Homo sapiens: one gene and its partner. The protein of the gene in region 1 purifies or fractionates together with the protein of each later gene. This does not show direct contact. Each region holds a gene or a part of one and is shown on either strand. Other genes may lie near its edges. The genes, in order: IGSF5 and PASK.

The links.
Region 2: the proteins of IGSF5 (region 1) and PASK purify together in Homo sapiens (affinity purification with mass spectrometry; one large-scale study listed by BioGRID and IntAct). This does not show direct contact.

Annotation. Positions count from the first base shown.
Region 1 is NC_000021.9:39,748,126-39,751,936, reverse strand, and holds part of IGSF5 (immunoglobulin superfamily member 5), read right to left. Parts: intron 1-3,811. UniProt on the Homo sapiens protein: Provides, together with MAGI1, an adhesion machinery at tight junctions, which may regulate the permeability of kidney glomerulus and small intestinal epithelial cells. Mediates calcium-independent homophilic cell adhesion.
Region 2 is NC_000002.12:241,135,665-241,139,475, reverse strand, and holds part of PASK (PAS domain-containing serine/threonine-protein kinase), read left to right. Parts: intron 1-681; coding exon 682-822; intron 823-1,388; coding exon 1,389-1,523; intron 1,524-2,211; coding exon 2,212-2,472; intron 2,473-3,436; coding exon 3,437-3,605; intron 3,606-3,811. UniProt on the Homo sapiens protein: Serine/threonine-protein kinase involved in energy homeostasis and protein translation. Phosphorylates EEF1A1, GYS1, PDX1 and RPS6.

The DNA of each region.
Region 1 (3,811 bases):
AAAAAGGTGCTGGCATTTCTCCTGCACTCGGAAGACTCCAGCTCTGAGCATCTTGCATTCAGGGTCGGCCTTCTCAGAACCTCCAGAGACTTTGGGAGAATTCTACTTTCCCTAAGGCTTCTCATTAGAGGGTGGAAAAGGCATTTACAAGCTTGTCCAATGAATGGCAGACGTCATGAGTCAGTCCTTTCCAAAAGCCCAGACTTCCCCACTGCACAATATCTCCATGTAACAAAACTGCATTTGTACCCTCGAAGTCGGTAAAAGTTTTTTTAAAAACTTTCTATTAATTGAATCCTGACCCCACCCCCCCCAGCCCATCAAATTTCAGCCAAGTCTCAGCTTTCAACCCATCCCAAGAACAGTTCACTGTGAAAGCGACACTCACTGAGTAGAAACCATCCAGAAATTCTGAACTTCTCAGAGAAGCCCACGCTTGTAGTTTTTAACTCTGTGGAAGTTGGAAAGCGAAGATCATGTGTGCAAATGTCCAGAACTTTCCTGGGAAACCCAGATAACGGCCTGTGCGGGGCTTGAGGGGCCCTATGGAGAAACTCACTTGACAAACACCTGTCACAGGGGAGCCACAAACTGGAGTTGTCTTACCCCAGATGACAGGTAAACCCTTTGGAGGGCTTCAGCAAGGGTGCTTCATTTCCTAAAGGCCTCTTCGTGGCTCTTGTCCTCTCTCCATACAAATGTAGAAACACACTCTTGTCTGGCCTCTAGAGAGTCCTGATGCTGCCTCACCAGAACCAAAGTTCCTCAAGAAATGGCTCTGTCACATCACAGACTGTGTTATAAATGCAGATGTGGCCTCACAGTCCAGGGAGGTATAAGCTCTTCAGAGTGCGTATTTCCTCATTAATCATCACCAAGCTCCAAACAGCAGCCAAACACAGGAAGTCCAGGCCCCGGGCTGGGAACGCAGAGGCCTCAGGGCCAGTCTATCCTCTCCACTCCGGCCTCCACTCCCTCTCCCTCCTCTTCCAAGTCCTTCGGAGTCAAGGCACTGCTCAGCTCCCGCCCTGGTCCTCTTCCACCAGCTGGAGGCTGACAGATCCTTCCTGCCCAAAACATGCTGCCTGGCTGACTGACCTTGCCTCCAGCAAAGGCCCAGCGGCTGGTGGAACTGGCTCCTTCTCCCAGCCAGGCACCTTGACATCCACAAGAACAAATCCTCTTAAGAAAGAAAAAAGTCCCGAGGGTGCGTCCTCTGGATGAGACAGCCATTAGGAGTAAGTGTGGCTTCCATGGCATTTGCTGGAGGACTGGTGGATAGGGCAGAGCTCCAACCCCCCACCCTCAAGTGCTAGGAGATGAACACAGGAACGTGGCTTTGCAGAGCACTGTGACAGTTCTGGAAGACTGTGTCCCAAGAACCTGATGTTCAGCACCATACTGAACTGCTTTTTTTTTTTTTTTTCTGGAGACAGTGTCTTGCTCTGTTACCCAGGCTGGAGTGCAGTGGCACGATCATAGGTCACTGCAACCTTGAACTCCTAGGCTCAAGCAGTCCTCCAGCCTCAGCCTTCCAAAGTGCCGGGATTACAGGTGGGAGCCACCACACCCAGTGAAAGGTCTGCTTTTTTAATGGTCCTTTTTGATAATCTTGTCAGGGAACTCAGAATCAAGGATTTCTGCATGTAATAGGCACCAATGGAAGATATAGCTAACATATTTAAAGACCAAGAAGCAAGTAAATGGGGCCAGGGGAGGCGAAGAATGCTCTTCCTTCCAGTTGAAGGTGTGAAAGGAAAATAAATCACGGGACCCCAAAATCACTAAGCCAAAGGGAGAAAGTCAAGCTGGGAACTGTATCAGGCAGACCTGCCTCCCATTTTATTCCTAAATAAGATAGCTATAAAGATGAAAAAGCTGCATACCTCCTTCACAATTTGCCCATGAGAAAAATTCCCTTGTGGGCCTCAAGATCTTTACCTTAAAAACAGTTCCGTTGAATTTCACCCTGGCAATGTAAATTGTAGCTGATCTTCACAGGTGCGGAGCAAAGGCCAGAACTCAAAGTCATCTCTCTGCTTACCTGAGACAAATGTGTATCTGATTGCTTTCTCTGCCGTATTGCTTAGTAAAAATACAGATTCATTGAGTCAGACAAGGCATAACTGCCTATTCCTCTACCCCTCTCTCACATGTAAATTGTGTATTCAGTGAGAGGCTGATCAACCTTGTGTCTCTTGTCTACCTACAACTTGGAAGCCCCCACTTGGAATTGTCCCACCTTTCCAGACCAAACCAATGTACACATTACACTTATTGATTGATGTCTCATGCCTCCACAAAATGTATAAAACCAGGCTGTGCCCTGACCACTTTGGGCACATGTTTTCAGGGCCTCCTGAGGCTGTGTCATAGGTGCGTCCTTAACCTTGGCAAAATAAGCTTTCTAAATTGATTGAGACCGGCTGGGCACGGTGGCTCATGCCTGTAATCCCAGCACTTTGGGAGGCCAAGGCGGGCAGATCACCTGAGGTCAGGAGTACGAGACCAGCCTGGCCAACATGGCGAAATTCTGTCTCTACTAAAAATACAATAATTAGCCGGGCGTGGTGATGTGGACCTGTAATTCCAGCTACTCGGGAGGCTGAGGCAGGAGAATCACTTGAGCCCAGGAGGCGGAGGTTGCAGTGAGTGGAGATCGTGCCACTGCACTCCAGCCTGGGTGACATGGCGAGATTCTGTTTCAAAAAAAAAAAAAAAAACCTATTTGTCTTTCCAAAAGAAACCTATTTGTTCTTTCTATAGGAAGCCTTTCTCCCCCCTTCTCCTCCCCTACAACGTTAGATATATAAGCCTTTTAACTCTTTAACTCTATTAATGAGCCAGCTACTTCCTTTGTTGGCTCCCATATGCATAAGGCATAAACATTTTTTTTCTCCCGTTAATTTGTCTTTTATGTTTCTTCCACAGGCGCCTGGTGCTGAACCTAAGAAGATAGCAGAAAAGTTAATTTTTGTGTGTGTTATACAATAACCAGACACTTGTCTCATTTGTATCCTTTTTGTCATCCAATGCAACTTTCTCAGGATGACTTCAGCTGCACGTCACAATTCAGTGAGTGCTGAGGCTTACTTCTAACCTCACTGGCTGTTTTCTGGTGGAACTTCAGTTGACCACAACCACTCCATTAAAATAAAAAAATTATAGTGTGAAAATCATTCCTTTCCACAACTAGCACATTATTTTCTAGCTTCTATAAACGGAATTGTGTTCCCCCGAAATTGCTATGTTGAAGCCCTCACTCCCAATGTCATGGTATTTAGAGATGAAGCCTTTGAAAGGTCATAAGGTCCTCAAAATGGAGCCCTCGTGATGGGACTCAGGTCCTTATAAGATCTCGTTCTCTTGAGAGGCCAAAGTGGGCAGATCATGAGGTCAGGAGTTCCAGACCAGCCTGGCCAATATGGTGAAACCCTGTCTCTACTAATAACACAAAAATTAGCCGGATGTGATGGCACGTGCCTGTAGTCCCAGCTACTCCAGTGGCTGAGGCAGGAGAATTGTTTGAACCCAGGAGGTGGAGGTTGCAGTGAGCCGAGATTGCGCCACTGCACTCCAGCCTGGGTGACAGAGAGAGACGCTGTCTCAAAAAAAAAAAAAAAAAAAAAAAAAAAGATCTTGTTTTCTCTTCACTTGCACACTTCAAGGAAAAGTCATGTGAAGACACAGCAAAAAGGAAGCCACCTGCAAGCCAGGAAGAGAGCCCTCACCAAGACGCTGACTCTGCTGGCACCTTAACCTTGGACTTCTAGCTTCTGGAACTGTGAGAAATGAATGTCTGCTATTTAAC
Region 2 (3,811 bases), on another chromosome or scaffold:
AAGCATTTCCCTAGACAGTGTTGATTCTCTCACCTGTGCCATGTGTCCAACCTGGATGTTGACAGGTGAGCTGAGTTGGATGTGGAGGACTGAGCCCAAGGCATGGAAAAAGCCCAAGGCATGGCTGATTGTAGGGTTTCCCCTCGTCAGCCGGTCGGGGACTGGGGGAGTAGCGTTGGAGGGCAGTGGAGGTTGGGGTATGATCTGAGGCTCTAGTAGTCATCCAGATCCTCCAGGTTGCCTGTTTCCCACCTAGTGTGTGGCTTTCACACAGAAGACCCCATTGCTTGAACTGAACTGATGTCACAGGCTTAGGACCAATTGTATCAGAAAATCACTGGTTCAAGAAACTGACTACTAAGAAGAAAAAAACTAAGATATTCACCATGTGTTGGTGTCTGTTTCTTTAAGAAATAACAGATACTGCTTTTTTCACCCTGCAATATTACCATGAACTGAGAATGAAATCTACTCTCTTGATAAAACTTGCACTTGGAGATTTTAATGTTCAGTATGGGAAATCTTGTTTGTGCTTTGGTAAATTTCTGAAATGAAAATCAGGTAAGCAGAAGTTGAAAACGTTGCAGTGCCTGGAGTTTGGGCCTCCTGGAGGCAGGTGCCCCACCCATACTGGTCTTTTGGGTTCATGGCATGCAGGTGTGAACCTGTCTGTTTCCACAGGTGGACATCATCAGCCGTAGTGGGGAGAAGATTCCAGTGTCTGTGTGGATGAAGAGGATGCGGCAGGAGCGCCGCCTATGCTGCGTGGTGGTCCTGGAGCCCGTGGAGAGGGTCTCGACCTGGGTCGCTTTCCAGAGCGATGTGAGTGTGCAACTTTGCCTCATGTCTCATGGACGCTGGAGCCGGCGTCGTTCTCCTCTTCAGCAAGTGCTGGTCCCTGTCTCATTCCTTTGGGAAGAAAGAGAGGATGAGGAGCCTGGAGGGTCTGCCCAGTGGTACCCTCGCTGATTGCGTGTGCTTGGGCAGGGAACGAACTTCCTATACTTCAGTTCCTCACCTGTGAACTGGGGCATAATCATAACTCCTCATAAGATTGTTTCAACATTTAAATGAGATAATATATGTAAACCCCCCAGGATAGTAGCTGGCATTAGAGACAGCCCTCATATGTGAACTGGGATGTTATTAATGAGCTGTGGTGTGGGCCAGGCTCCTGAAGAACAAGAAGGCCCACAATTTAGGTACGTCTCTGGTAGAAGGAGACAGATGATGAAGCTCTTATCAAATTCATGTGTATATGTCTCTTGCCCTTCCGATGGAGAAGTCATGTTGGGGTCTTGCTTTTGGCTTGAACATATTGAAGCTTAGTTAAATTTACAGCTGGAGCACAAGAAGCTTTTATGATAAGCACGGGGCTTTTCCTCCAGGGCACCGTCACGTCATGTGACAGTCTCTTTGCTCATCTTCACGGGTACGTGTCTGGGGAGGACGTGGCTGGGCAGCATATCACAGACCTGATCCCTTCTGTGCAGCTCCCTCCTTCTGGCCAGCACATCCCAAAGGTAGGGCTCCTGACCTCCCGCACTGTGTGATGGGGTGGAGTTCTTAGCTCTGAATCCATAACTGGAGACGCAGACCAAGGGTTTCTGAAGGCAAGGGTGGCCTTAGGGGTGGGACATGCTCAGTTTTGAGCTTCCTGTGCGCTGAGGCCTTGACCAAGGGCCGGAGCCTATGTGGTCTCCCAGCTGACCACTCTTGTCCCCTGAGTCTTCTCCCAGGAGCTGGGCCACCCACAGAGGTGGATGCTGGGACGCTGCCCAAGGCTGAGGGGTGGGAGGTAACATCCACAGCTGCGCAGCTGGTGTAGTGCTGCCTGTGGGGCCAGTATCCTGGTGCCAGATCAAGGATGGCACAGTTGCCAGTGGCGTGGCTGAGCCCCGAGCCTGAGCCCCACAGTCCTCCCTCCCTCCCTCCCTGCTGGTGCCCGGCCCCTCACTGGGGTGTCTCACTTGCCCTGGGGTTGCTGTGCCTGGGGCGGCTCTGGACACTGAGTCCTCCCCACCCACAGAAGGGCTCTTTCCTGGGCCAGCTGGGCCTGGGAGGAGAGGGAAGGCAGAGCAGTGTGGGTGTGAGATGTCCTGGGGACCTTCCCCGATGACGTGGGGTAGAAGTCGGGTCGGACGCAGCACAGACTCAGTGCTCTGTCCACGTGAAACACGGCTTAAGCCAAACGACAAGCCTTTCTTTCAGAATCTCAAGATTCAGAGGTCTGTTGGAAGAGCCAGGGACGGTACCACCTTCCCTCTGAGCTTAAAGCTGAAATCCCAACCCAGCAGCGAGGAGGCGACCACCGGTGAGGCGGCCCCTGTGAGCGGCTACCGGGCATCTGTCTGGGTGTTCTGCACCATCAGTGGCCTCATCACCCTCCTGCCGGATGGGACCATCCACGGCATCAACCACAGCTTCGCGCTGACACTGTTTGGTTACGGAAAGACGGAGCTCCTGGGCAAGGTGGGGCTGCCCTGGGCGCCTGGCTCCCGTTCCCTGGGAGGAAGCTGCTGTGCTCTGCAGTGCGGGCTTGCGTGTGGCACAGGCCTCGCACCCGGCAAGCTCTCCAGCTCGCTCCTTTACCCAGGAAGGACCTTGGGTCCAGGGAGGGAGGTCCCTGCTCATGGCTGCCAAGCTCCTTCCTCTCCACCCTTCCCCAGCAACCACCGTCGGAGGGAGAGGAGCACTGTGCTTCGAAGCCCTGAGAGATCTGGTCTGACTGATGGACCAGGGTTTACGACACAACTGCGGGGGTTCATTTCTCACCCTAGTAGAAATACTAAAAAGTAGCTAAGCTGAATTGTAGTTACGTTAAATTTAAGTTAGTTAAAAAGCAGTTAGTGTTCTTCCTGGATGAGGGGTTCCCACAGGAGCTGAGGGCATTGAGACCTTGCAGGGATTTTGGGGGCATGGACACTTGTGCCCTCTGTGAGGTTAGAGCGGGTTCTGGCATTACAGCTATGGGCAGTGTCCCGGTGAGGGGGCCACACACAGGTTCAGAGGAAGCATCTGTCAGAGCAGCTCCTGGCCTGGGAGGAAGGCCCCACAGTCCTTCTGTCCTGGGTGCATGTCACTGTTCCGGCCACCAGTGAGCCGCGTGAGGTGAGGCTTGCAAACACAGGCTCCCAGATCCATCTAAACATGGGGCCAAAGGCCAGATGTCTGCTCCAAAGATGTGTCGATGTCACTGTAACTTGCCGCAGAGTATGTTTTTACCTTTTTCTTAAGGGGAAAATCACAGATCACATGTTGAGCATCTGAGGGGCTTCAGGTGCGTCGAAGGGCATTTGGCCCGAGGCCTTTCCTGACCTTAAGGGTGAACCCTCAGGGACTGGCTCTCCTTGTGTTCATTCCTCCCCCAGGGGGACGGTCCAGTGGGTCAGCGTGGATCCTCCAGGTTCTGAAATGTCCCTGCTTTGTTTTCTAGAATATCACTTTCCTGATTCCTGGTTTCTACAGCTACATGGACCTTGCGTACAACAGCTCATTACAGCTCCCAGACCTGGCCAGCTGCCTGGACGTCGGCAATGAGAGTGGGTGTGGGGAGAGAACCTTGGACCCGTGGCAGGGCCAGGACCCAGCTGAGGGGGGCCAGGGTAAGACGTCCTCTTCCTCCTGAATGCGCCTGTAGCTGCTGAGCCCCAGACAGCCCCATGCCTCTGAGACAGGGCTGGGAGGAGCAGGAGCTATTGTCCCTCCAGAGGCTCAGGGGTGGTGGGGGGCGGAGTAGGGGGTGACTGTTTTCTGGTTTGATGTTCCTCTCTGTCTCGGGGGCTGTGACATATTCTTATAAACATATGAG